Homo sapiens: one gene and its partner. The protein of the gene in region 2 interacts with the protein of the main gene of each other region in a pairwise test. Each region holds a gene or a part of one and is shown on either strand. Other genes may lie near its edges.

The links.
Region 1: the proteins of JAG2 (region 2) and CACNA1A interact in a two-hybrid assay, tested with the Homo sapiens proteins (one study listed by BioGRID and IntAct).

The regions. Positions count from the first base shown.
Region 1 is NC_000019.10:13,209,480-13,223,937, forward strand, and holds part of CACNA1A (voltage-dependent P/Q-type calcium channel subunit alpha-1A), read right to left. Parts: intron 5,130-14,458; coding exon 5,022-5,129; intron 4,855-5,021; coding exon 4,754-4,854; intron 3,262-4,753; coding exon 3,152-3,261; intron 3,044-3,151; coding exon 2,905-3,043; intron 2,738-2,904; coding exon 2,624-2,737; intron 1,174-2,623; coding exon 1,138-1,173; intron 20-1,137; coding exon 1-19.
Region 2 is NC_000014.9:105,139,982-105,154,439, forward strand, and holds the end of JAG2 (protein jagged-2 isoform a precursor), read right to left. Parts: intron 12,311-14,458; coding exon 12,180-12,310; intron 12,077-12,179; coding exon 11,957-12,076; intron 11,759-11,956; coding exon 11,645-11,758; intron 11,416-11,644; coding exon 11,302-11,415; intron 11,124-11,301; coding exon 11,010-11,123; intron 10,931-11,009; coding exon 10,884-10,930; exon of another isoform or gene 10,797-10,883; coding exon 10,623-10,796; intron 9,340-10,622; coding exon 9,189-9,339; intron 9,109-9,188; coding exon 8,956-9,108; intron 8,878-8,955; coding exon 8,764-8,877; intron 8,459-8,763; coding exon 8,345-8,458; intron 8,249-8,344; coding exon 8,135-8,248; intron 7,908-8,134; coding exon 7,791-7,907; intron 7,547-7,790; coding exon 7,519-7,546; intron 7,431-7,518; coding exon 7,345-7,430; intron 6,744-7,344; coding exon 6,630-6,743; intron 6,520-6,629; coding exon 6,404-6,519; intron 5,993-6,403; coding exon 5,750-5,992; intron 5,081-5,749; coding exon 4,949-5,080; intron 3,658-4,948; coding exon 3,501-3,657; and 4 more. UniProt on the Homo sapiens protein: Putative Notch ligand involved in the mediation of Notch signaling. Involved in limb development.

The DNA of each region.
Region 1 (14,458 bases), on a different chromosome or scaffold from region 2:
GGCTGGTGTCTGAGATGGTCTGGGGGAGGGGACAGGCCGGTGGGCTGGGGTCAGCAGCTAGCACCAAGTGGTCCCGGTCCTTCCTGCCCCATTGTGGCAGCCTGGTGGTGGCCTTCGGTGACTGCGGTGTGACCATCCTGGGGCAGGGGCCAGGGGATGCCATGGGGCCTTGGCTCCCCCTGATCAATCAGGGCTCTGGGTGTGGCCAGGCCTCTGAGGGTGGAGCCTGAGGATTCCTCTGTCCCTCAGAGACAGGACTGCTCCTTTTGAGCCCATCCTGGGTTCTGACCAGAAAGATCTGATCCTCACTCTCCAGTCCTGGGGGCCCAGCCACAGTTGGGCAGGCTCAGGCTGGCCAGAGGGAAGCCCTCTCCACATCCAGGGTGCAAACCTGGGAGCCCTGGACTGCCGCACTCATCCCTGCCCCAGCTTGCTCTCCTGGGAGGGTGAGAAGCCTCCGACTGTGGCTGGCTGACCTATGGGCTCAGGACCAGGTGCCCGGCATGGCAGCTTTGGGTCCTCCCGGCTAACGGGGCTGTGCTCGCTGCCCCCACAAGTCTGAGTCCTTCTGGTGAGGCCCAAGCTAGGGAGCTCTGGGTGGGGGTGGGGGATACCCAGGCACTGGAGGCTCTGGGGGCCCACTCTTTTCCCTGGTGCTTCATCCCTGGGTCAAGCCCTGACACACAGGTTTCTCTGCAGCAGGCAGAGGAGGGAAGGAGGGAGATGGGGCAGACGCCCGCCTCCCAGGGTCCAGCCCAGCTGAGCGCTGGTGGCCCTGCTCCAGGTAGGAGCTGCAGGACCAGGGGTTGGTGGTGGTGTCAGGAGAAGAAGCCCCCCAGAAAGAGGTGCAGAGTGGGCCAGGCTCTTGGAGAGCCAGTGTCCTCCGGCGTGGGGGGCCCTGAAGAAAAGGGGGTAGGGGTGAGGATGGGGATGGCCCCGCCCACCAGGGCTTATGGGTGAGGGGCACACACAGGACACCACACACAAGGATTGGGCTCCATGGAGGGGAGAGGGTGCGATTGCCAAAGAAAGGGTGGGGTCCGGGGACGGTGAGAGATGACGGGACTCCCTGGAGGGGGGGTGGGGAGGAAGAGGGGGCCGGAGCCCTGCTGGGCGCTGGGCAGGCGCGGTACATACACTGAGGTTATTCCCACGTGGCCGGCCCCTTCTCCTCTGTCACAGCCCCATGGGATGGTGCACACAGAAAAAACAGAAAGAAGAAAATAAATATAAAAGGCAAGAGGGAGAGTGAGGAGGTGGTGCATGGAGAAGAAGCCAAGGAGGGGAGTGGCACTGGCATCAAGAGAAATCGGAGGGAGAAGGCAGGGAGGAAAAGAAAAGTTAAAGTCCTGGCGGGTGGGTGTCCCAGGCCCCCGGGGCTGGGCGTCCTCTATTCCCATGGGTACAGAGGAGACAGACAGGAGATGCAGACAGACAAATGGCAGAGGCATGGGACCGAAAGACAGGACGGCGCAGCCTCGAGCCCCTGGCCCTGGGCTCTGCCTCATGCGATGCACACCCCAACCCCTGGCTCCGGCCGATGCTCAAAGCTTCCATGTGGTGGCCGTCAGCTGGGCTTGTCCCAACCCTCTCCTGGGGCCCAGCAGCTCGGTCCTGAGGGAGCAGCAGCATGCACGCTGGGTGCTCCCCAACCCACGTTCCCAGCAGCCAGAGGCCAGGCCCTCAGGTGACCCTGGTCCAGCCAGGCACAGCACAGCCTCCTGCCCCGTGCAGACGCCACACACGGCACACGGAAAGCTCGCCACAGCCACACATGCCACGCACCCGGGCCAGGCTCTCACAGCCATGCCCTGTTCTCCTCCAGAGGCGGGCTGCGTGCATGGGCCCCCGCTGTTCAGGCCGGGTGGGCAGCCAGCTATGCCTCTGGGCCCTCTGTCCCATGAGTCCAAGGCAACGGGATCACCTGCAGGTGGGCCTGGCAGCTGGGTGAAGCGGCCACACACAGACACACATCAAGCACACACCCCTGTGCCCCCCAATGACTCCCACAGAGACCAGACAGAAAATACGAGCCCAGCTGCCCCCAGACCCACCCCAGACTCTGCTACTGTATCCTAGGACCTGCCAAGTTCCCATATGCAGACACGTGTGCACGTACATGTGTGCATGTGTGAGTACATGTGCAGTGTGTATATGCCCACGTGCACACACGTGTGTGTATGCAAGCATCTGAGTAGGCGCACAGCTGCACATGTGTGTGCATGTATGTTGAGCATGTGTGTGTGTGTTTGTGTAGGGGTGATCTTCGTGGCAGGTCTCAGCTGGCCCTGTTGAACCCTGCTGCACCCACAAATCTTCCACAACCTCCCCTGTCTGCAGCCTCCAACCAGGGCAGCCAGAGACCATTTTGCAGTGGCCACTGCCCTCTGCCCCAGGGGGAGCACTTTCCTCTCTGTCCTCTGTGAGGGAGGAGGGTCTGCAGGTGCTCCAGGTGTGACCAGGTGGTGGGTGGGGCCTGCAGACTGCTTCAGAGACTGAAGGAGTCCCTACCCAGGCCTGAGTCCGGCAGGGAGGGGATGCACTGGGCTGCTTGTGGGGGGGCCTGGCCCTACCCAGTGCAGAGTGAGGGGTCCAGCCCCAGGGCAGTGGTGAAAGCCCTCACCTGGTTCTCTGCAGGGAGGCGGGGCATGGAGGCAGCCCGGCCCTGGCCTTCCATGGGGAGGTAGTGCTCGCTGTCGGAGTAGCCATCTCTGCCCATCTCTCGCATCTCCACGGACTGCGGAGCAGATGGCAAAGCCAGATGAGCTCTGGGGCCTGACCTCCAGATCCCTGGTGTCTGCAGAGGGAGGGAGCTGCAGGTGTGTGTGTGTGGGGGGCCCAGATCCCTTCCACCTGAACCACCCGGGCCCTGGGAGCCATTGGGGAGTTGGGGGACAGAGGCACCTGAGAGTTAGGCTGGCTGTTGGGCATGTCGGTAGGGGGGCCTTGTTCCGGACTCCATGTGCCCGTCTTCTGGAACATCTCCTGGGCACGCTGGGTCACCCAGGACGGGCTCTCCTTGAGGCCGCTTTCGTGAGCCATCCTGCATGGGGGACAGAGGCCGGGGTAGCAGTGGGCGCTTGGGCAGCTTCCAGAACGTGGGGACCACGGCACCCCCACACTCCACCTCCCTGGCAGGGGTGACACTCACAGGGCTCCTCCTGGGTCCAGCTGGGTGGAGGGGAGGGCGTTCTGGCCAGGTCCCCCTTCCTGCGTTGGGGACGGGGGCTCCATGCGCTGGAACATGAGGGGTGTCCGGTCCTGGGGAATGGGGCAGAGAGCAGTGTGTGGACAAGGGTGGGGTGGTGGGACGGTGGTACCCAGAAGGCATTGCGACATCCCCAGTATACACACACACACACACACACACTCTCTCAGGTCTCATCCATCTAGACCCTTCCAATTCCACGCAGAACTGGACCACTTCTCACTCCTCCACCCAAGTCATAGCCCCAGCCTGGTCCCACGTCCTCATCTCTCACTGCAGGCACCTTCTCCCAGGTCTCCCGCTCCTACCTTCAACCCCACTGTTCCACAAGAGCCACCAGAGGGCGCCCATGAGCACTTGAGTCAGGTCCTATCCCTCCTTTGCTTAGAACCCTCCATGGCTCCCACTTGCTTGGGGAAAAAGCCAGAGTCCTTCCTGCAGCTCCCATGGCCCTGAAGGATCTGCCCTGTCACCTCCTTGCCCTTGTCTCCTCCCTGCTCTTTTCCACCACACTGGCCTCTTTGCTGTTACCCAAACAACCCAGGCACGGTCCAGCCTCAGAGCCTTTGCACTGGCTGTTTCCTCTGCCTGGAACACCCTTCCAGGTATTGCTTAGCTCACTCCCTCTCCCCTTTTCCTTCAAGCCTTTGCTCACATGTCACTTTCTCAGGGAGGCTCCCCAACTACCCATTTCCCACCGCATCCCCTCCTCCCCTGGATACTCCTATCTTCTGGATTCTTCTCCACTTTCCCCCACGACACTTTCTTTCTCTTTGCTGGATGTTGCACGATTCAGTCATTTGCTACCATTGGCATTTCCCCACTTGGAATGTCTGCTCCCTGAGGGCAGGGATTCTGGCCTATTTTCCCCATGGGTGCATCCCCGAGGACTGAGAACAGCGCCCTGCACACAGTAATACTCAATAAGTGTTGGTGGAGCAGCTGAATGAAGAATGAATCCACATGATGTGTCCTTGGCAAGAACTTTTTTTTTTTTTTTTTTTTTTTTTTTTGAGATAGAGTCCTGCTCTTATCACCCGGGCTGGAGTGCAGTGGCTTGATCTTGGCTTGCTGCAACCTCCACCTCCCAGGTTCAAGTGATTCTCCTGCCTCAGCCTCCCAAGTAGCTGGGACCACAGGTGCATGGCGCCACATGCAGCTAATTTTATTTTTTTTTTGTAGAGATATGGGTCTTTCTATGTTGCCCAGACTGGTCTCCCACTCCTGGCCTCAAGTGATCCTCCCATCTTGGCCTCCTAAATAGCTGGGACTACAGGTGTGCACCACCATGCCTGGCTAATGTTTTATTTTGTAGAGATGGAGTCTCACTGTGTTGCCCAGGGTGGTCTCATCCTGGTCTCAAACGATCCCTCTGCCCTGGCCTCTCAAAGCACTGAGATTGCAGGTGTGAGCTGCTGTGCACAGCCCCTACTTTTCAGGGACCTGCCCTGGGGCTCAGCCACCCTCATATTCCAGTTGGTTCCCGTGGTGACATGCAAGCCACTGTCCCCAGCCCAGATGTCCCCAGAGCGGCGAACAGCGCACCTGCTCCTCGCGCATGGCCTGCAGCTTCTTGGCCTTGCTCTGCCGGTAGTACTCCATGATCATCATGGCTGCGTAGATCTTCCCCACGGTGAGGTCCGTGGCTGGGGGCACACACACGGTGAGCTCACCAAGGGCAGGCCTCTTTGGGGCCCTTGTCCTGGGTCCCTGTGTATACCAGCCCAGGCCAACACTCTCCCCAGGCCTCCCCTTTCCCTCCCCCTCCATCTGTCCTGGTGGATTGGATCCCAGGGCTGGGCTCAGCTCTTACACTTGTGAGGTGTGACCAGCAGGTCTAGCGTCTTCTGGGACAGATTGGGCCAAATCGCCATCATCTCCTTCCGCAGCTCAGCGTCCATCTGCTGTTTGTCGGCTCCTCCTGCAATGGGGGTGTAGACAGACCCTGACTGCCTGCCTGGGTGTCAGCTGGACTCTGGGTCAGCTGCAAAGCCATAGGCTCCCGAGAACGAGACCCCAATCTTTCTGGTCCCCATGGGGTCTCCAGTTCCCCAACGGCCTGGCCCAGAGGAGGCCCTGGGCAGTGCTGCTGGAATGACCTTGTGGGCTCTGGTTTTCGGTGGGGCCAGGACCATGGAGCAGCTGTGCAGGAGACAGCCCGGCATGGAGAACAGCTGGGCGACCTGGGTCCCAATCTTGTCTCCCAGTTATCGGCTGCATGACTTAGGTTACTCTACCACTTAGTAACTCAGTTTCTCCATCTGTGAAATGGAGATGATAGCAAGAGTACTTGCCTCACCTGGTTGTTGTGTGTGTGTGTGTGTGTTTTTTTTTTTTTTTTAGACAGAGTCTTGCTCTGTTGCCCAGGCTGGAGTGCAGTGGCACGAGCTTGGCTCACTGCAACCTCCGACTCCTGGGTTCAAGCAATTCTCCTGTCTCAGCTTCCCGAGTAGCTGGGATTACAGACATGCACCACCATGCCTGGCTAATTTTTTGTATTTTTAGTAGAGACGGAGTTTCACCATGTTGGTCAAGCTGGTCTCGAACTCCTAACCTCGGGTGATCCACACGCCTCGGCCTCCCAAAGTGCTGGGATTACAGGCGTAAGCCACCGCGCCTGGCTGGTTGTTTTTTTTTTGTTTTTTTTTTGAGATGGAGTTTCACTCTTGTTGCCCAGGCTGGAGTGCAATGGTGCAATCTCAGCTCACTGCAACCTCTGCCTCCTGGGTTCAAGCGATTCTCCTGCCTCAGCCTCCCGAGTAGCTGGGATTACAGGTGTGCACCACCACGCCCAACTAATTTTGTATTTTTAGTAGAGACGGGGTTTCACCATGTTGGCCAGGCTGGTCTCAAACTCCTGACCTCAGGTGATCCACCCTCCTCAGCCTCCCAAAGTGCTGGCGATTACATGCGTGAGCCACCGCGTCTGGCCTGTTTTTTTTTTTTTTTTGACAGAGTCTCTCTCTGTTCCCAGGCTGAAGTGCAGTCATGTGATCTCGACTCACTGTTACCTCCGCCTCCCAGGTTCAAGAGATTCTCCCGCTTCAGCTTCCTGAGTAGCTGGGACTACAGGCACGCACCACCATGCCTGGCTATCACCTGGTTGTTTGATGATCAAAGTAACGTGCGTGCAGCCTTGGGACAGTGTCTGCCATAGGATTATTACTGCAGTGACCCATCTGTTCAAGGCTGGGACGCCCTGGAGCATCCCCAACAGAGGAAGTTTTGGTTTTGGTTTTATTTTGATTTTTGAGACAGGGTTTTGCTCTGTCGCCCAGGCTAGAGTGCCGTGGCACAAACATAGCTCACTGCAGTCTCGACCTCCTGGGCTCAAGATCCTCCCACCTCAGCCTCCCAAAGTGCTGGAATTACAGATGAAAGCCACTGTGCGTGGCTCAGAGGAGGTCTTTTCCCCTTTCCCAAGTCTCCACTGCCACGGACATGCCCTTGGCCTGCAGCCAGTCCCTCGTCCCTCACCCCAGTCATGGGGTGAGTCATTAAAGCTCTCTGACGGTGTTTCCTGGCCCTCCTACCTGAGTACATGGGGGGGTTCCTCCTGTGGTTGGCAGGGCCATGTGATGAGTCCTTGCTAATGGGGTGTGCACCATGTAATGTGCCACTTTGGGGCCAGAGCATTTATTATTATTTTTATTATTGTTATTATTTTTGAGATGGAGTCTCGCTCTGTCACTCAGGCTGGAGTGCAATGGCATGATCTCGGCTCACTGCAACCTCCACCTTCAGAGTTCAAGCGATTCTCCTACCTCAGCCTCCTGAGTAGCTGGGATTACAGACATCTGCCTGGCTATTTTTATATTTTTGTAGAGACAGGGTTTCACCATGTTGGCCAGGCTGGTCTCGAACTCCTGACCTCAGGTGATCTGCCTGCCTCGGCCTCCCAAAGTGCTGGGATTACAGGCATGAGCCACTGTGCCTGGCCTATTATTTTTTTTAAAAATTTATCTATCTATCTATCTATCTATCTATCTATCTATCTATCTATCTATCTATCATCTATCTATCGATCGACAGGGACTTACTCTGTTGCCCAGGCTGTGGCACAATCTTTGTTCACCGAAGCCTTGAGCTCCTGGGCTCAAGCAATCCACATTCTGACAGTCAGAATGTCACTGTGGGCTGCTATTTGGATATGCTAACTGGGTTTACGTTTAATATGCTAATTGGTTCAGGCAGGTAGTTGGCTCTGCCCTCAATGCCTGGGGTGGGGGGCTTGAAAGAGGATAGGGTCCAGCCTGGTCAACATGGTGAAACCAGTCTCTAGTAAAAATGCAAAAATTAGCTGGGCGTGGTGGCGTGCGCCTGTAATCCCAACTACTCGGGAGGCTGAGGCATGAGAATCGCTTGAACCTGGGAGGTGGAGGCTGCAGTGGTGAGTTGAGACTGCGCCACTGCACTCCAGCCTGGGCGACAGAACGAGACTCCGTCTCAAAACAATACAAAACAAACAAAACCAAAACCAAAATAGAGATTCTTCTGGGCAGAGAGAACAGAGGGGTGGGTGGGAGAGAGAAACAGATGGACAGGGAAGAGAGAGAGAGAGACAGAGACAGAGAGAATGAGATGGACTTGCCCCCTTTCTCCCAGTCTCCAGCAATGAATGGTGACACCATTTTTGAGAATCTGAAGAATGAGGTTAATCTGTACCCCCTTTGCAGCCCCTTAGCCTGCTGGAAAGGAAGCTCAGTGTGCTTAGAAAGTGAGCTGAACTATGAAAAGAAAGCGCGTTATGTTCTCCTGAGACCCGCATCTGCTCAAAGGGCTGCCACTGTTATCACTCTTCCATTGTTGTCCCCACACCCTCTTGACCTTCCGTAACCCCGAGAGCCTGGCTCAGCTGTGGAACTCCAGGATGAGGCCTGGCACCCACTGAGGACAAGAGGTGGAGGGGCTCCTGGCTGAGAAATCTGGGGGATCATTGTCTTCAGGGAACTGAGTGGCATCTGGGGTACAAGTAACAACTGTGACAGCCAAATTCAGAGACATCTCCAGGAGTCTTTGAAACCCTCAGGAAGGGAATCCAGTAGGTGTCATAGAAGCTGGGGTGCTAAGCAGTAAGGACTAGCTCAGTAGGCTAGTGTTGTCCAAACCCTGCACATTCCGATGAAAGGACTGGCCCATTGACTTGCTCCTGGGAGGTGATCTCTAAGCCTTTGAAATGTCCTGCCTGAAGAGTGTCTTTATTTAGCAGGGGGCCTTGGGCCACACTGTATAGTTCATTCTTTTTTTTTTTTTTTTTTTTTTTTAAAAAAAAGAGATAGGGTCTCACTATGTTGCCTAGGCTGGTCTCGAACTCCTGGCCTCAAACGATCCTCCAGCCTCAGCCTCCCAAAGTGCTGGGATTATAGGCATGAGTCACTGTACCCGGCCAATACAGTTCATTCTATTTATTTATTTATTTTGAGATGGTGTTTTTGCTCTATTGCCCAGGCTGGAGTGCAATGGTGCGATCTTGGCTCACTGCAACCTCGGCCTCCTAGTTTCAAGTGATTCTCCTGCCTCAGCTTCCCCAGTAGCTGGGATTACAGCCGCCCGCCGCCACGCCTGGATAATTTTCCATACAGTTCATTCTAACAATGCGATTTATCGTTGGGGTCTTGGGCCACGTGGTATCAGTTTGACCTCTGGAGGGACTGGAGACTGAGTAACTACGTCAGCCCTGCCTATATGACAAACCCTCAATAAAAACCCTGGGGCACCAAGGCTCAGGTGAGCTTCCCTGGTTGGCAGTACACGGTGCGTGTTGTCACACACTGCAGGGAGAATTAAGCGTTGTCTGTGCAACTCCACTGGAGGCAGACAACTGGAAGCTCGCACCTGGTGTCTCCTGGACCCTTCCCCAGATGCCCTTCCTTTGCGCATTTTATGTTTTTGGAATTTGTTTGTTTGTTTGAGACAGAGTCTTGCTCTGTTGCCCAGGCTGGAGTGCAGTGGCGTGATCTTGGCTTAATGTAGCTCTATCTCCTGGGTTGAAAGGATTCTTGTGCCTCAGCCTCTGGAGTAGCTGGGACTACAGGTGTATGCCACCACACCTGGCTAATTTTCTTTTTGGACAGAGTTTTGATCTTGTCACACAGGCTGGAGTGCAATGGCACAGTCTCAGCTCACTGCAACCTCTGCCTCCCAGGGTCAAGCGATTCTCCTGCCTCAGCCTCCTGAGTAGTTGGGATTACAGGGGTCTGGCACCATGCCTAATTTTTGTATTTTTGGTAGAGACGGGGTTTCGCCATGTTGGCCAGGCTGGTCTCAAACTTGTGACCTCAAGTGATCTGCCCGCCTTGCCCTCCCAAAGTGCCAGGATTACAGGCGTAAGCCACCATGCCAGGCCCTTTGCAGATTTTTTTTTTTTTTTTTTTTCTAATAGAGTCTCACTCTGTCCAGCCTGGAGTGAAGTGGCGGGATCTCGGCTCACTGCAACCTCTGCCTCCTGGGCTCAAGTGATTCTCCTACCTTAGCCTTCCAAGTAGCTGGGATTACTGGCGCCAGCCACCACGCCTGGCTAATTTTTGTATTTTTAGTAGAGACAGGGTTTCACCATGTTGGTCAGGCTGGTCTTGAACTCGTGACCTCAAGTGATCTGCCTACCTCGCCCTCCCAAAGTGCTGGGATTACAGGCGTGAGCCACCGTGCCCGGCCCTTTGCAGATTTTAATCTATATTCTTTCACTGTAATAAACTGTGAGTATAAAAACTTTTCTCAGTTCTGAGTTCTTCCAGGGAATCACTGAACCTGTGGGTGGTTTTGGGACCCCTGAACACAGATTCTCAGAGTGCCACAGAAGCTGAGTTACGATGGCATTACATACAAAGAGTGGGGGTGTTGTTAGACCCGTTGTACAAACGAAGGAACTGTGGTAGGCAGAATTCAAAAGCTGCCCTTCTGCCAAGATTCTGTTTATTCAAACACTAATCTAGGGACCATTGCCCAGGCTATGAAGGGACTTTGCAGATATAATTAAAATACCGGAGGCCCGGTGCGGTGGCTCACGCCTGTAATCCCAGCACTTTGGGAGGCCGAGGTGGGCAGATCACGAGGTTGGGAGATCGAGACCATCCTGCTATCATGGTGAAACCCCGTTTCTACTAAAAATACAAAAAATTATCCGGGCGTGGTGGCACGCATCTGTAGTCCCACCTACTTGGGAGGCTGAGGCAGAATCACTTGAACCCGGGAGATGGAGGTTGCAGTGAGCCGAGATTGCGCCACTGCACTCCAGCCTGGGTGACAGAACAAGACTCCGTTTCAAAAAAAAAAAAAAAAAGAAAGAAAATGCTGGGCATGGTGGCTCACTCCTGTAATCCCAGCACTTTGGGAGGCTGAGGCGGGTGGATCACCTGAGGTCAGGAGTTCAAAACCAGCCTGGCCAACCTTGTGAAACCCCATCTCTACTAAAAATACAAAAAAATTTAGCTGGGCGTGGTGGTGGGCACCTGTAATCTCAGCTACTCAGGAGGCTGAGGCAGGAGAATTGCTTGAACCTGGGAGGCGGAGATTGCAGTGAACTGAGATCACACTATTATACTCCAGCCTTGGCAACAAGAGTGAAATTCTGTCTCAAGAAAAAAAAAAAATATCAAGTCAGCTGACCTCAAAATACAGAGATGATCAGGGTAGGCCTGCCCCAATCAGGTGAGCCCTTGAAAAGCACAGTATTGTCTCTGCTGGGTGGCAGATGGGGAAGTCAGAGAGAATGAGAGCACATGGAGGATTACATGCACTTCCAGGAGCAAAAAGCTAAAAAGCCAGTGATAAAACAAGACCTCAGTCCTACAGCCACAAGGACTTCAATTCTGCCAACACCTGAATGAACCTGGAAGTAGATTCTCCCCCAGATCCTCCAGAGAGGAGCCCAGCTTGGCTGACACCTTGATTTCAGCCTCGTGAGACCCTCAGCAGACAGCCCAGTCCAGCTTTTTGGACTTCTGACCTACAGGACTGTGAGCTGACAAATAGGTGTGTCTTAAGCTGCTATGTCTGTGGTCATCATATAGCTCACTGCAGCCTTGACATCCCAGTCCCCAGTGATCCTCCCACTCCAGCCTCCCAAGTAGTTGGGACTACAGGTGCACATCACCACACCTGGCTAATTTTAAAATTTTCTGTAGAGATGGGGTCTCTCTGTGTTGGCCAGGCTGATCTTGAACTCCTGGCCTCAAGTGATCCTCCTGCCTTGGCTTCCCAAAGTGCTGGGATTACAGGTGTGAGCCACTGCTCCCAACTTCCTTGTGCTCTCTTTACCTTCACTTTGTTCCTGGCATTAACAATATCTGTCCTCCACCCCTCCAGTCCCCCACCTTCCCTGCCACTTCCTCCTTGAGTCTTGCCACGTGGCCTTGGCTCTTCCTCCCTTCTTTCCCTCAAGACCCTGGAAGGCACATATGTCTCGAGGCTCAGTCTTCCCTCCTCCTGACTTACTAGTGGTTTCAGCTGGGCTCAGCACCTTCCCATGTGTGGGACTATCCACCTGCTCCTCTCCCACCCACTCCTTTTTTCTGGTCCCATTTGTTTTTTCTTTTCTTTCTTTCTTTCTTTTTTTTTTTTTTTTTGAGACAGAGTCTTGCTGTGTCCCCCAGGCTGGAGTGCAATGGTTTGATCTCGGCTCACTGCAACCTCTGCCTCCCAGGTTCAAGTAATTCTTGTGCTCAGCTTCCCAAGTTGTTGGGATTATAGGTGTGCACCACCATGCCTGGCTAATTTTTGTATTTTTAGTGGAGATGGGGTTTCGCCATGTTGGCCAGGCTGGTCTCAAATTCCTGGCCTCAAGTGATCCACCTTCCTCAGCCTCCCAAAGTGCTGGGATTACAGGCGTGAGCCTCAGGTCCCCGTTTCTTCTGGCAATTGTGCGCCTGTCTCTCTGCCCTGCTGTCCTTAATCAGCTGCCAAATCACATCACATCCCCTTTCGGGCCTCCGAAATGCACTCCAGACAGGGGACCCCTGACCCCTCCGCCAAAGCTGCACTGGTCAAAGTGACCATGATGACCAGTCACTTGTGATCCTTGTCATCCTTGGTCTCTGGGCAGTGCCTGACACGGTTGGTCCCCTTCCTCCTGAAGCCGCCCTTTTAAACATAGAAGCTGCCTCCAGGAGCCCACACTGCCCTGGTCTCTGCCCGCCTCCCTGGCCTCCTCTTCTTCTTTCCCCCTAATGATGGAGAGTGAGCCCTGAGCTAGGTCTTTGGGGGAATTTCTCGGTATTTTTTATTTTTATTTTTATTTTTGAGATGGAGTCTTGCTCTGTCGCCCAGGCTAAAGTGCAGTGATGTGATCTCGGCTCACTGCAATCTCTGCCTCCCGGGTTCAAGTGATTCTTCTGCCTCAGCCTCCCTAGTAACTGGGATTACAGGTACCCGCCACCACACCTGGCTAATTTTTGTATTTTTAGTAGAGACAGGGTTTTGCCATGTTGACCAGGCTGGTCTTGAACTCCTGACCTCAAGTGATCCACCCGCTTCAGCCTCCCAAAGTGCTGGGATTACAGGCACACGCCACGACACCCGGCTAATTTTTGTATTTTTAGTAGAGACAGGGTTTTGCCACGTTGGCCAGGCTGATCTCGAACTCCTGACCTCAAATGATCCACCCACCTCGGCCTCCCAGCGTGCTCAGATTACAGGCGTGAACCACTGTGCCTGGCCTCAACAAAATGCTGAGATTACAGGTGTGAGCCACCATGTCCAGCCTTCTCGGCTTTTTTTTTTTTTTTTTTTCAGATGAAGTCTCACTCTGTCACCCAGGCTGGAGTGCAGTGGCACAAGCTCGGCTCGCTGCAACCTCTGCCTCTCGGGTTCAAGCAATTCTCCTGCCTCAGCCTTCTGAGTAGCAGGGACTACAGGTGCGTGCCACCACACCCAGCTAATTTTTTGTATTTTTAGTAGAGAAGGGGTTTCACCGTGTTACCCAGGATGGTCTCGATTTCTTGACCTCATGATCTGCCCGCCTCGGCCTCCCAAAGTGCTGCTATTACAGGCGTGAGCCAGCGTGCCCGGCCTCAGCTTTTTTTTTTTTTGAGACAGCGTCTTGCTCTGTCATCCAGGCTGGAGTTCAGTGGCGCGATCTTGGCTCACTGCAACCTCTGTCTCCCAGGTTCAAGTGATTCTCCTGCCTCAGCCTCCGGAGTAGCTGGGGTTACAGGCGCCCACCATGACACCCGGCTACTTTTTGTATTTTTGGTAGAGATGGGGTTTCACCATGTTGGCCAGGCTGGTCTTGAACTCCTGACCTCGTGATCCACCCACCTTGGCCTCCCAAAGTGCTGGGATTACAGGCGTAAGCCACTGCGCCCAGCCCCTTCTCAGCTTTAAAAAAAATGTTTTTTTCTTTTTCTTTCTGTTGTTTTGAGCTAGGATCTCGTTCTGTCGCCCAGGCTGGAGTGCAGTGGTGCGATCATGACTCACTGCAGCCTCAAACTCCTGGCTTCAAGCAATACTCTCATCTCTGCCTCCTGAGTAGCTGGGACCACAGGCATATGCCACCATGTCCAGTTAATTTAATTTAATTTAATTTTTGAGACAGAGTCTTGCTCTGTCACCCAGGCTGTAGTGCAGTGGCGTGATCTCGGCTCACTGCAACCTCCGCCTCCCAGGTTCAAGCGATTCTTCTGCCTCATCCTCCCTAGTAGCTGGGACTACAGTACCCACCACCACGTCTGGCTAAATTTTGTATTTTTAGTAGAGACGGGGGTTTCACCACATTGGCCAGGCTGGTCATCCTGACCTCAAGTAATCCACCCACCTTGGCCTCCCAAAGTGCTGAGATTACAGGCGTGAGCCACCACGTCGAGCCTACCCCTAGATCTAAGCTGCCGCCCTGTCTCCACCCAGATGATATCAGCAGCCCCCACACTGGCCTCCTTTCGGTCTCCCATCCCCTCAGTGGCCGGAGGGAACCTGTTCAAATGTGAGTTGGGTCAGGTTCCTCCTCTGCTCTGAACCTGCGTGGCGTGCCCTCACTCAGAAGGTGAGTCAGCTCAATGCCCCGGGTGTCCTGTGTTCACCCCTCTGTCAGGGCCTTTGCCAGTCCTTCTGCCTGGAGCACCTTCCCCCCAGGGATCCATGAGACACTGCCTTACCTCCTCAGTGGCGGCCTCCCCATCCATCTAAAGTGTAAGCTGCTGGGTCCTCCCCTGCTTGGACGGGTCTCTGGCACATTGAAGGAGTGCACTAAATATCTGCCAAATGGGCCGGGTGTGGTGGCTCATGCCTGTAATACCAGCATTTTGGGAGACCAAGGTG
Region 2 (14,458 bases):
TATGACACCCGCTATACCTGCCGCACCTACTTACTGCTCACCCTATGCCTGATGGGCTCCTGTGGGCCTCAGGACAGCCCCTGCCAGGCCCTTGCCTGGGGCCCCCTCCTCAGCTGCTGATGCTATTTTCTATCTCTTGTCCTGGGGGGCAGCCTGGATCATTTCTTCTCACCTGTCTTCTAGTTCACAAATTCTCTCTTTAGCAGTGTCTAAGCGTGGCTGCCAAACTACTTCTGGAGTGTTTGGTTTGAAGGCTGTATTTTTTTTTCCATTTCTAGAAGTTCTACTTGGTGCTAGGTTGAAGTTTGGCCTATCAGCTTTTCCAAGCCATCTTTGAGCACAGCAAGCTTTTTACAATCCATGTCTGAGAATTCCAGTACACTCGGATGCCTCTGCACACATTTCTCATGGCTTTCGATCATGGTGCCAGGTTCCCGTGTACTTGGTTTGATTGTGGTCTACTCACTGACCTGGAAAACTCATTCATGAGGTGTACAGATGTCTAGGACAAAGGTGATTTGCATTTGGTTCTACCAGGAACCTAGGGAACTGCAAGTTAGGTACACACCGTTTAAAAGGAAACTCAAAGCCTGCCGTCTTTTTGGCCAACCTGGTGGTGGGAACATGGGCTTCAGGTCCACACGAGTCATGGTGTACACGACTCCTCAGTGGCTGCCCTTCTGCCTGAACTGCCTGGCCAACCCCTTGGGGCCACGGCAGGAGGTGGGTTTAACCCTTGCCCCCACCCTGAGGGCACAAGCCTTGGGCTTGTGAGCAACTGATGGCAAGCAGGGTCTCCTACCAGCTCCTCTGTGTGTCCCTGCAGACCTGGCTCAATACAATGGAGAAGCCGATGGGAGGACTCCAGCCGGAGTGAGGGAGACTGTCCCTCTAGTGCACACCATAGCTCATTTGCATGGCTTCCTGGAGTCCACAGCAGCAGTGCTCAACAACAGACATCCAGAGTAACTTCTGCAGCAACGAGCGGGTCTTAAGGAATTACCAGGTCAAAATTTTTATTCGTTCATTCATTTATTCATTTGTTCTGCCTGTGCAAGGCAGCCTCACTCCCAGGCTGTCAGCAGGACTTTTTTTTTCTCTTTTGTACAGATCTGGTTCTTGGCTTTGCTCCTTGACTCAGTTGACCTCCTACCCCTCACAGCAGGGTAAAGACTTGCACATCACTGACAGGCGGCTCGGAGTCAGCCTTGGAGTCGGCCTTCCATGCCCAGCCCTGAGGCCACCATGCCACGTTCCAGTTGGCTCAAGCAGTGAGGGGCAAAACCAGCTCCAGGGCCAGGTGGAAGGGCTGCTTCTCTCCTGCCTCCATCAAATGCTGACCTTGCCTCTGAATGACCAAGCAAAACAAAGGAATAAATGAATGAATAAAAATTTTGACCTGTTAATTCCTTAAGACCTTGATACGTATTCGTGGGTAAGCAATTTTATACTATTTTATAAAACTGTTTTCAGCTGTTTTAGTCAGGGTCGGGTGCCAGGCACCTAGACACCCCCCTCCCCATTCCCAGGAAGGTTTTGGCCAAACCTGCATCCACCACCTTGGCATGCCAACGCATTCGAGGCCCTGGCAGGCCCCGACTCAACAGAACCGTCTCGCCCTCTACAGCCACCACAGCCACGTGGGCCAATACCCAGCACGCGCCCCACTGCCCCAAGCCTCTCTGCCGGCGTGGCTCTCCCCCAACCTCACTCTCAATACAAAAGGGACAGCACCGAAAGAACAAGGGAGGCCGGAATGGTGGCATTATTCAATCAAATATACAGAGTGCTTCCTTTAATATGTACACATTTACAAAAATGCACTTTCACGAGGAGGGGCGGCCGGGGCCGGCAGGTGGGCAGCGCCTGGTGCCACGGCACGCGTGGACAGTTGCGAGGGGTCTGTGTGAAGGCACTTGTCACGAGCTTCAATACTGCCGCCGTCCCAGGATGGGAGAACTGCGCAGCAGGAAGGGCACTTCTGAAAGCACAGTGGAGAGATCGCTGGAGCGGGCGTTCTGGGCAGGAGGAAGCACAGACGGCAGGCAGGGTGGACTGGCCAGCAAGCGCGAGGTTGACCTGCCAGCCTTGGGCCACGCCGATGACCTCAGGCCCCACTAACAACCACAGGTGCGTCAACAGCCACGGGCCGTGCCGGCAGCCAGGGCCACATCAATAACCAGGGTCCCACCGACCACCGTAGGTCCCACCGACAGCCACAGGTCCCATTGACAGCCACGAGTCCCACCGACAGCCACAGGCCACACCATCAGCCACGGGTCCCACCAACAGCCATGGGCCACACCAACACAGCCATGGGTCTCACCGGCACTTTGGCCTGGAGCCACAGAGAAACCCGAGTGAGGAATAAAAGGAAGATTCTGTAAACAGTGCACAACCTCTGGTAACAAACGCTACGATTTGGTGACGACGCAGACACCCTTTGCTCTCTCCTTTCATACAGCGAGTGCCACGCACGGAAACTTTACAAAAATAGCAACTATCCGAGAATACTCCATTGTTTTCAGCCTGACAGTTACTGAATAATTTATACAAGGTTAAAGAAACGTAGAAAATAAACATTTGGTTTTTGTTTTTGGTGGTTTTTTTACACAAAATAAAGAAACTATGCACATGGCCTCGGCCTCCGGGTCCGGCAGACGGCATGGCTCCCACCGAGGGCCCTGGGTCCCGGCCCAGCTGGCAGCCGCCCCTACTCCTTGCCGGCGTAGCGGGCCTCATTGATGCTCCTGACCGCGCGGTTGTCCACTTTGGGGCCTGAGGCCCAGTGGGCCGGCCTCCCCGGCGAGCGGCCAGGATCTTTGGTGAATTTGTGTGAGAGGAACTTCTCCGCCTCCAGGGAGTCCTCCTCACCGCGGCCCAGATCCTCGTCCTCCTCATCCTCCCTGACGGCCGCGTGGCCGGCCGGCCCGGGCAGCGCCTCGTCCGCCCTGCGCGGCGGCGGCGTGAAGTTCTTGCACTGGTAGAGCACGTCCTTGTGGCCCCCCGGCCGCTCAATGGGGTTGCGGATGGGGTTGAGCGGGGCCCACTGGTTGTTGGCGCTCTCCTCCCGCGGCAGCCGGCTCCTCTCCCGCTCTTTCCTGCGCTTGCGTGTCCACCACACGCACAGGACCACGCACGCCAGCCACAGCACGCTGAAGGCACCACACAGCACAGGCACCAGCAGACCTGGGGACCGGGGAGAAGAGCCGGTGGGCAATGAGGCCTGGGCACCTGCGGGGCACTAGCCACACACCCAGGCCTGGGAGGGCCCTGCGGGCCAGGCGGCCGGGCCCCACCCTCCGGTTGCTGGCTCGTGGGGAGGGTCCCAGGACGGGGGCTGGGAAGGTCAGGTTGTGGGGCTGGGCGGCTGGGGCAGCAGGTGCCAGGGACTTCTGTGTTCCTGGTGGCTGGCAGGATCGGCAGGATCGGCCGGCTCTGTGCCCAATGCCTGAGTTGCCTGCCTGGTGCCTTCCCAGGGGCCCACCTCCCGCGCTTACCTGTGGAAGAGCCGCCCGTAACAACCGTCTCCACCTTGACCTCGGTGACAGCCAGGAGCAGTGAGCTGTTCCCCCGCTGGGTGATGGCGGCCACGATGGCGTGGGCCGCGCCCTGGATCAGGCTGCTGTCAGGCAGGTCCCTGGCAGGGCTGAAGGACTGCGGCAAAGAACGGCATTGTGGGGATGGCTCGAGGGCTCCAGGCTCCCAGCAGCCTGCCCCCAACACTGAGGCCCTGGCCACACTGGAGCAAGGTGGGCGCACGGGAGACGAGAGCCCGGGGTCCTGCAGTGGCGACTTCACCACCAGGCAGTGAGTGGGGAGTAGCGGGGGGAGGAGTGGAGGGGTGGAGGCTGTCCCCATCCGGGCACACAGGAGAGCCCAGGGTCCTGAGGTGTGGGGACCTCACCACCAGGCAGCGAGCAGTGGGGGGAAGGGGAGGGGTGGAGGATGTCCCCATCCGGGCGCACGGGACAGCCCAGGGTCCTGCGGTGGGGACCTCACCAGCAGGCAGTGAGGGGTGGGGGGAAGTGGAGGGGTGGAGGGTGTCCCCGTCCGGGCACACAGGAGAGCCCGGGGTCCTGCGGTGGGGACCTCGCCACCAGGCAGTGAGTTGGGGAGGTGTGTGGCCCCATTCGCTGACACCTGCTCCGTGATGGCCATCCCTTCTTGTCAGTTCCCAGCCCCCACCCCCACCTATGGGCCACACCCCAGGGGCACCACAAACCTAGTGCCTTCACGAGGCCACAGCAACCCGGGGCTGTGCCCCTGCCTCCACCACATCCCTGATGGCGCCCTGACCTGTGCTGGCACACTTCTTACATCTTCCCCTGCCCCTACTGCCCTTCCATCACCCAGCAGCACCCATCCATGTCCCCCACCCCCTCTGCGGCCTCAGGGCACCAAAACACTGCACGTCCTTCCTGTGCCTGGCCATGGCCTCCACCAGCCACACTGTGCCATGGCCACACCCACTGCTCTGCACACCCACCCACCATGTTCCAGAACATTCCCTCCCCTCTCCGGGCATGTCTCCACCCCAGTCTCACCCGACCCCCTTGGTATCCATTCACATCTGACACCCCCCAGGTCCAGGGCAGGTGCCAGTCCCAAAGCAGGCCTCCCAGGGCAGACTAAGCCCACGGACTCTCCTGCTGCCTGTGACGTAGGGACACAGAGACAAAAACAGAGCAGGGGACCGGGCGAGGATGCAGCTGCAGGGGAAGCGGGCTCCACACCACAGCCCTGCATCTCCCTCATGCTGGCCAGGCCCAGGGAGCAGTTCCACGGGTCTGCGGCATGGACAGCGAGGGGCCGCAGGGAGACAGGCCTGCCCGCAGTCCTTCCGCACCAGGACTAGCCTCGCCAGAGCCTCTGTCCAGCATAGCCAGGACCTGCATAGTACGGGACCCAGGGCCCACCCAGGTGCTGCTCCCCACTGGGCACTCACCACGGCCACCTCCACAGCACTGGCCCCCGAGGACGCCCGGTCGCAAAGCAACACCAGCAGGCGGTCCCGTGCCACAGCCCTTGTGGCTGGCAGGGAGCGGATCCCGGAGCAAATGGCGCCCACCGTGGTGCCCTGGGCAGAGACAGGCAGTGCGTGGGCAGGGCAGGGCCGTGAACCTGACACCTACATCCCTGGACTGGCGCTGTGGGTACACGTGGGACACACCCTACAGCCCGCCCAGGAGAGCACAGCAAGGATGCCAAGGGCCTGGGGGGGCAGCTTCCCACCCGGCTGTGCCCTATACCAGGAGGCAGGAGTGACGGTGCCCACCCGCCCATCCTCAGGGCGGACCCAGCTCCACCTGCAGGCCAGTGGGGGAAGGAGAGGCAGGGCGGGGTACAGTGGGTCTCCTCCAGTTCTGAGCCCCTCCTGGGAGACAGGGGCCCAGCTCCAAGCACACAGCAGGCAAAGGTGGCTCCTAGGCCAGGGCAAAACTGCCCACGGAGCTACAGCCCAAGAGCTGGGGCCAGGCAGCCATGGCGCCGTCAGTCCAGGCCCTCAGGGCAGCTGGACAAACAGGCACCCCCAGCTGGCTGCTCTCCCAGCCTCCTCTGCCACCTCCACCCAGCACCAGGCCCAATGCCCCTCTCATCTGACCCCACAGGGCCACTCTCTGTGACCAAGAGTGACTCTGCTCAGCCAACCAGGGCCTCCCTGCCCTGCGGGGCTAGGCTTTCGCCATGCCACGAGCAGATGCCGGCGTGTGGCCTCTGCAAGCTCAGATGCCACCAGGCCCCTCACCTGGGGCACGTGGTCACGGTTGAAATGCAAGGTGAGGCGGGCACAGTTATTGTCCAGGTGGCCGGAGCGTGGCAGGCAGGGGGTGCTCGGTGGCTCTTCTGCGCCGCACTCCCCCCAGGCCTCACAGGGTGGTCGCAGACACTGGCCTGGGGCCTTCTCCAGGCACCTTTGCCCCAGTGGGCACTGGGCGCTCAGGGCCTCGGGCTGGCCGGCCAGCAGACAAGGCTTCCATCCGCACCACACCTGGGCAGGCACGCACAGGAGGGTCAGGCGCAGGCGCACAGGAGGGTCAGATGCAGGCACACAGATGAGAACCCACAGGCAGGCACGGGCCCCATGCCAAGGAGGGACACCGCCCAAGTCTGTGAGCCCCAGGGCCCAGCCCACCCCCTACCCAGGGCTCCCAGGGAGGCAGGCCAAGCTCGACATCAGAAAGGGCAGGCGGAGCAAGGCAGGACCCAGACCAGGCCTGTTTTCCCAACTGCACATCGAAGCATGGGGCCTGGCTGAGCTCTCGCCTCCCTGGGTGTCCCTGAGGGCAGACGGCTCTCAGTCCATCCGGACCCCAGCACCCGCCTCCTGATCTCACAGAGTGGCCAGGGTCAGCGTGCACCAGCCTCGGGTAGGGCAGGGCGGCTCACGGGCTGCCCTCACCTTGCTGCAGTCACGGCGGCCATCCAGGCAGCGGCAGCTGTTGCAGTCTTCCACCCAGGAGCTTCCGTGTGGGAACGGAGTGCCCCGGGACCAGCAGGATCTCCCGAACCCGATCACTGTGGGGAGAAGGGGCTCGAGGGTCAGCAGTGGGCATCTGGCCCTCGGGGCTGGGTGTCACCCATGCCCCCCAACCCGCCCCAACCCAGGGCAATCACACGGGGCCTACCTTCCTGGCACCGGGGGCCGGCTCGGCCGGGTGGGCAGCTACAGCGATACCCGTTGATCTCATCCACACACGTGGCCCCGTAGGCACAGGGCGAGGACTGGCACTCGTCGATGTCTGCAGGGAGAGCCACCGCTGCTCAGTGCAGTGAGGCCAACGCCCACCGCAGGACCGGCATGGCCTAGGGCAGCGGGGAGCCAGTGGCACACAGGCGCAAGCCCCAGGACAATGAGGAGCAGCCCCTGCCCCCGAGCCCAAGCTGCTGCCTGCCTGAGGCCTTCCTGAGCCCAGCCTGACCCTGGCCCAACAGCACCCTCCTCCGTCTGCTTCTGCAGTGGGCCTGTCCCATCCTGGATTAGCCCCAGCTGCTGCGTCGGACCAGCCAAGGGGTGCTGGACAGACAGCTGGGCCAACACCCAGGGACAACAGCCCTGCGGCCACAGAGGAGCCCACGTCAGGCTGCACGCTCCAACCCCCACAGCTCCCTGGGCCCCGGACTGGTCCCCCAGGCTGGGGCTCCCCACTTAATCACTTGGCAGGGTATACAGCAGGAACCCCACAGGGCACAGACATGTGGGGAAACTGAGGCTCAGAAGAGAGGCAGGAAGTAGTTGTGGCCACACTGCCCTTCAAGGGACGTGGACGTTGATGTCCCCAGACTCCTGACACCGCGGCTGGGCTGAGGGGCTCCCAGGGCTGGGGCTGTCTGGCCACTCACTGATGCGGCAGTCAGGCCCCGCGAAGCCAGGTGCACACTCGCAGCGGAACCAGTTGACGCCGTCAACACAGATGCCACCATTGTAGCTGCAGAGCAGAGGGTGGGCATCAGGTGGCCCCCCGTGGTATGCCAAGTCCCACCCACCCCTGCTGTGGCCCCCAGGGTGCCACTCACCAAGGCAGAGGGTTGCAGTCGTTGGTATCTGGTTTGGGAGAAGAGAACGCAGGGGATCAGTACCCACCCCCCAAGCGTGCCAGGCACTGTCCAGGCTGGCTTGGCGTGATCAGGCTGTGGGGCTGGGGAGGGTCATCAAGGAGGGTGCCTTTTGCTGGGGGCAGGGGCAGCAGGGGGAGGGGCTGGCAGAAGGGACTGGGGGGCGAGTCGGGGGCAGGGATGTCATCTGGGTGGAGGAAAGCGGCCCCCGCCCACACCCCTCCCACACTCACTGTGAGTGCAAGTACGACCCTCCCAGCCGTCCCGGCAGATGCAGGAGAAGGAGGCCCCGCTGCCCACGCAGGTGCCACCATTCACACAGGGGTTGGGCAGGCAGCTGCTGTTCTTGGCTGTAAGGAGAGGAGGAGGAGGGAGCGTCTCACCTGGCCCTGGGCTGGCCCTGGGTCTCCATACCGCGCCCCCAACCCAGACAGGGCAGACAGACCCGGGGGCAGGGGGCAGGGGGCAGGTGGCAGGTGTGGCCCTCAAAAAAGACCCCTCGGCCCATCGCGCCCGAGGGAGCGGTGCCTGGGAGGGCATATGCCCGGCGGTCGCAGAGGCAGCGGGGGCTCCTCACCGACGGCGCAGGTGCTGCCCTTCCAGCCGGGGGGGCAGGCGCAGCGGAAGGTGTCGCCGCTGTCGTAGCAGGTGCCACCGTTGCTGCAGGTGTAGGCATCGCACTGGAACTCGCCTGTTGGCACATGGGCCGCTCAGCAGGCAGGCCCCAGACCGCCAGGGCCAGGGTCCTGGGGGCAGCCCCAGGCGGCCAGGGCCTGCGGACACTCACGTGAGTGGCAGGTCTTGCCCTTCCAGCCGTCGTCGCACGCACAGTAGAAGTCATTGACCAGGTCGTAGCAGCGGCCGCGGCTGTGGCAGGGATCGGGAAGGCAGTCGTTGGGATCTGGGGGCGAGGACGCCGGTCAGCGGGCGGGGGGTCACCGGCGCTCAGGGAGGGCTTCCCGGGGGAGGAAGCACTGGAGCTGGGCCAGGTGAGGACAGAGAGGGGCGGGGGAGGAGCGTCGGGCCGGGGGAGCTGGCCTCGGGCATGGGGGCAGCCTGGGACTCCACCCCATGGTGGCAGCACCCCCTGGCCAGGCCTTTCTGGGTACGGGGCCTGCCGCACCCAGACAGCGGTCCATCTCAGGGTGATAAGGGGCCCACAGGGGTGGAGGCACAGGCCGTGTGGGCGGGTGCTGGAACACTCACTGGTGTCGCAGAGCTCGCCCTCCCAGCCGCTGGGGCAGAAGCAGCGGAAGGCGTCCACCTCATCGATGCATGTGCCCCCATTGCGGCAGGGCTGGCCCAGGCAGTCGTCAATGTCTGCAGAGGCGAGCGGGGTGAGCCAGGGCCTCAGGCCAGCCCAGCCCCACCACCAGCCCGCCGTTCGTGGCCACTCACTCTCATGGCAGTAGGTGCCAGTAAAGCCACTGTCACAGATGCAGGAAAAGTTGCCCCCTGGCTGGCTGACGCAGCGTCCATGGGGGCCACACACGCCGGAGGCTGCTGTGCCAGGCATCCCAGGCCCCGCGTCTGACCCGCAGCCATCGATCACTATGGCAGGCAGTACAGTCAGGAGTCAGGCCCGCCCCTGCCCCACCACCTCCCCCACCACCCCATGCCGCACCCAGCACCTCTGCAGGCCCCGCCAGGGCACGGCTCGCGGGGCACGGAGCAGTTCTTGCCACCAAAGTCATCAGGGCAGGCGCAGTAATAGTCACCCTCCAGGTTATAGCAGCGAGCGCCGTTCCGGCAGGGGCTTGGCTCACAAAGGTCGACATCCACCTGCAGGGTGGGGGGTGCCTGTGAGAGCCTAGGCCCAGGCCCAGGCCGGGAACACAGGCCAGGCCTCTGTCCATACGAAGGTAGATCCCTGGGGACCCCCAGGCCCCTCCGCCCTGGGCCTAACAGTGCCAGCCAGAGCCCAAGACCCCTGCCCACCTGAGACTGCCCAGGCCTTAGCTGAACGCAGATACCTGTGGGCCCCCACCCCCACCTCCACTGCAGCCCAGCTTCCTCACTGTCCCTCGGGAGGAGTGTGGCCTTGGCCCCTGCTGCTGGCAGGAAGGACAGCTCCTGAGCCCCTCACACACTGCCTGGCCACCCTCAGAGCCAAGACTGTGGGTCTTTTCCAGGGCCAGCCACTGCCATGCTTGCAGGTCCTGAGGTCAGACCCCTGCCCTGGGCCCCAAGAAGCCCTCTGGACAGGAGGCCCATCCTCTGCACCAAGGCCAGGGCAGGATCGTGGGCGGCCGAGGGTGGTAGGGAGGTGGGTGGGGGGAGGCAGGGAAAAAGGGGAAGTAAGGGGAGGGGGTGGTAGGGAGGCAGGTAATGGGGAGGCAGGGTTGGGGGAGGTGGGGAAGGGGGTGGTAGGGAGGTGGGTGGGGGGAGGCAGGGTTGGGGGAGGTGGGGAAGGGGGTGGTAGGGAGGTGGGTGGGGGGAGGCAGGGTTGGGGGAGGTAGGGGAGGGGTGATAGTGAGGTGGGTGGGGGGAGGCAGGGTTGGGGGAGGTGGGGAAGGGGGAGGTGGGGAAGGGGGTGGTAGGGGTGGTGGGGAAGGGGGAAGGCAGGTTACTTTGGAGGCAGGGGGGAAGGGGAGGTTGGGGGAGGGGGTCCAGTACCAACAGATGGTCAGAGGGAGGCGAGAGCATCAGCCCTGAGAGAGATGCCCACTCCGACCCAGGACTCACCTATGACAGGTGTATACCTCTCCACCATCAGGCACCCACCCTACCCCATGTGCTCTGCCCACCAGAGCCCCCTGCCCTCCAGTCCCGAGGGAGTGCACAGATGGACAGATAGGCCTGGGCAGCCAGCAGCCCGGGGGCTCCTAGCCCAGGCCACCAGGAAACCCATCACAACAAGCAATGGCCACAGGGGGCCAAGCCTGGTGACCTGTGACAGCCCCGCCTGCCCACCTGGCACCCAGTGGAGAGCTGAGCCTGGGACGCCTTGGGGACAACTTCCCCTGCAGCACCCCTGGGTCACTCAGGCCCCATGGTCAGGGGACGAGGCCTGCCCTACAGCTCCCAGAGCAGCAGGTGGGGCAGGGTGACCAGGCAGACCTCACCTCACAGAGAGGCCCGGAGAAGCCCTGGGGGCAGTGGCAGTGGAAGCCGTCGGCCAGGTCCTCGCAGAGGCCGCCGCTGTGGCAGGGGCTGCTGGCACACTCGTCTCGTTCCAGCTCGCAATGCCGGCCTCCGAAGCCCCGTGGGCACACACACTGGTACCCGTTCACCAGGTCCTGGGCGGGCCAGCCAGGTGAGCGTCCCGCAGGCACCCTGACGGCCCCGCAGCACCCACGCCACACACCCTCCTGGCCCCGCCTCACCTTGCAGGTGCCCCCATGCTGACACTGCCCGCGACAGTCGTTGACGTCTGGGGGCAGAGGAGCAGGGTCAGAGGCGGGGTCCCATGTGCCTCGGCCCACCCGCCGGCGCCCACCCCCCATACTGACTGATATGGCAGTTGATGCCCTTCCAGCCCGGGATGCAATCACAGTAATAGCCGCCAATCAGGTTTTTGCAAGAAAAAGCGTTAAGGCATGGCTTCCCTTCACACTCATTGGCGTCTGTGAAAGAGACAAGGTGGGAGCCGTGGGGCTCGGGCCCTGCCTGCCCCCTGCAGCACGGGCACCTGGCACCCGCAGCCCAGCAGCCCCAGCAGCCCCAGCAGCCCCCGCAGCCCCAGCAGCCCCCGCAGCCCGCATGCGCGGCCCACGTTCCCATGCACTCGCTCGGAGCCCTTACCCAGCTGGCAGGTGGCCCCCACCCACTGCTCGGGGCAGATGCACTCAAAGCCGTCCACCTGGTCCACACAGGTGCCACCGGCCGCACACGGGTTCGAAGCACACTCATCGATGTCTGCAGAGGGTGGAGAAAGGTGGGGCCCTGGCAGTGTGAGCCGTGGGAATAAGGTCCCCATGGGCAGGTGGCGCTGCAAGCCTGGGTCTTCCTGCCATTTGTCCTCGCCAAGCCAGCCGCAGCCACACGTGTGGACTTGACCACTGCACCCCATCCCCAGCGAGTTGCCCCACTCCCAGACCCCCACTGATACTAGGCAGGAGTCCCCTACTCACGTGCAGACACTCACCAAGGGCACAGGTGGGCCCGCTCCAGCCCGATGGGCAGTGGCATTCGAAGCCGGACGGCACCTCATGGCAAGAGCCCCCGTTGGCACACGGGTTGGAGGTGCAGGCGTGCTCAGCTGTAGAACCGCGGGGAGGGGGCAGAGCTGGCAGCCAGGCCCCCAGCTTTCCACAAGCACTCCTCCCCAAGCCCACAGGTTCCCAAGCTGGGGGTCAGGGGCCCACCACACAGGACGCCAGAGGGATGGGGCCTGACCGGCTCCCCAGGGAACCAGTCCCTGCCTGGCCAGAATTTGGGTGGCCAGCCCCCCACGTACCCTTCTCACAGTTCCTGCCCGAGTAGCCGTCAGGGCAGGTGCAGCGGTACTGGTCAGGCTCGGCGTTGATGCACGTGCCTCCGTTGGTGCAGGGGTGGTGGCTGCCACAGTAGTTCAGGTCTGGGGGCAGGGGTGGGATGCTCAGGGGAAAAGCCGGCCCCCCGCTCCCCCACAACCCACACTTCGATGGCAGAGCATTAGGCCTGCCGCCCCCTACCACTACCTTTGTCACAGAGCAGGCCGCCCCAGTTGGTCTCACAGTTGCACTGCCAGGGCTCCACACAACTGCCATGCACGCAGCCGGGGTAGGGGACACACTCATCGCAGAACCTCCCTTGCCAGCCGTAGCTGCACCTGGGGGAAGGAGGAGGGGCGCAAGACCCAGTGAGCTGTGGTGCCTGAAAGGGTGGCAGGGGAGCCAGGCACAGTCACCCACGCCACACCCAGGGCCGGCGGGCGGCCTCAGGCCTTTGAACTGGAGCAGCCCCAGCCAGGCAGGGGTTGCAGCCCTGCCGGCCAGCCCCACTGTCACGGGCATTCCCGGCCGCTGGCTGCCGACGGTCAGCCCCAGCTGTCCCGTCACTCCTCCCTGAGCTATTTTGGGATTCACCCGTGAGCTGGGCCCCGAGAGCAGGCACCAGGAAAGGAAGGCCCTGCCGGGACCCCGGGGATGAGAATGCCGGCTCGGACTCACAAGGTGCTGCCAGGGCCGGGAGGCACCAGGGGCTGGGTAGGCCAGCGGGCAGCAGGGGAGCACTCCTGGCTCTGCCTCGGCCATGTGGCCCTGGGCACAGCACGTGCCCTCGCCCCCACCTCAAAGGCAGTCATTTCGCTCGCTCCCAGTAAAGTCCCACAAGGTACCCATCTCACAGATGGGGCTACTGAGGCCCACAGGCTGGCCTGGGCCAGCCCTGCCCAGGGTAGTTCCTGATTCTGCAGGAGCTCCAGCTGCACCCCCAGCTGCACCCCCCAGGACACAACCACCAGGACTCGCCCTGCCCCAGGCTATCGGCCAACGTCCTGTCTTGGGAGTCCCCCAGGAGAGGGCAGGTGGCCAGGGTAGAACATGGCCTGACTTGAGGGTGCCTCCGTCAGGGGAGAGAGCCTGCAACGACCCCAAGGCTCAGCAGGCTGCCATCCAGGCCCTGCCGGGACTCCCGGGGGGCCCTTCCTAGAACTCTCCGGTCCTGCAGGACGGGAATGTCATCCAGGCCACGTCACTTCCACACCGGCACCCGCCACACTTTATTTTTGTAAAAGGAAAGAACCACGGCCCTTCCTGAGCCGCCCTCAAGCCACACAGCCAGCACCGAAGGCCTATCAGCCCAGTTCAGCTGCCACAAATGGGGAAACTGAGGCCGGGAAGAACGTGTCTCCAGTATCCAGCCCAGCATGCACAGTGGTCCGCGTGGGTGGCCTCACATCCCGCCTAGAATCCCTCCTCCACAGACACAGAGACCCAGGCTCAGGGCGGGGCTGTGACACACCTTGGGTCATCGGCCAGAGAGCGGCCACAGCCGGGCTCAGAGCCCAGACCTCGTGGGTCCCAAGGGCGTGCTCTCGACCCTGGGCAGGGCAGCCCACACCAGGCCCCCACCTCCTGGTTTCCCCAGCCAGCAGCCCCAGGGCCCTGGAGAGGCGGCGGCAGGAAGGCATGGCCATCTCCGCAGCATCCGGTGGGGGGGCGTCCTGCACTGGAACCTGAGCCGAGGCTGTCAGCAACAGCTGGGCCTCCCCGACAGGGCCAGCAAGAGGGGCAGGCGGAGCTCACCTACTGCCCCCACCCACCAGGCCCCCCAGACTCCGGCTCATCTTCCTGCGGGTAAAGGGCAGGGATGGCCAACTTCTCTGCTGCCTTCCTCCAGCCTTGGTGTGACATTCAAGCTGCCAGCCAGCAGCCATCCAGGGAGGGTGGCACTGCCATCCAGGTTGTGTGATGCACACTGGGCCAGGCGAGGGTGAGTGGGGCCGACTCCCGTAGATCTACATCTACATCTGCCCAGACCAGGTCCACCTTGTTGCACTTTCTGAGCTGACTTGGGACTCGCTCAACCTGCCGGGAATCCCTGTGTGTGCAAGTGACCGGGTGGGCGGCCCCAGCCCTGCTTGCCTCCCCGCTCTGGGACTGGCCGGGAAAGCTCCTCACTGTACCCTCCAGGCCACTCAACCGTGGGGCCTGTGGAAGGGTCACCCACCTCCCCACCTTGGCTCCCAACTCAGCTGGTTCCCAAACTCCCCGACTCCTCTCCAAAACGCCACGCTGTGTGACCCTGGGGAAATCAGTAGGCTCTCTGTGCCCCAGTGTCCTCGTCCCATGGAGGCAAACCCACTCCACAGAGGGAGGTCCTGGGACCCCTGCAATCCAAGGCTGGCTGGAGGGCGGTGCTCACCTCCACCTGCTGTCTCTCCACCCGCTCGCGCCCCTCTCTCGGGCTCCCCAGCTTGCTCACGCACAGTGAGCGCCACGGCTCGAAGCCCGTGCCCACCCCAGACCCTGGGCCC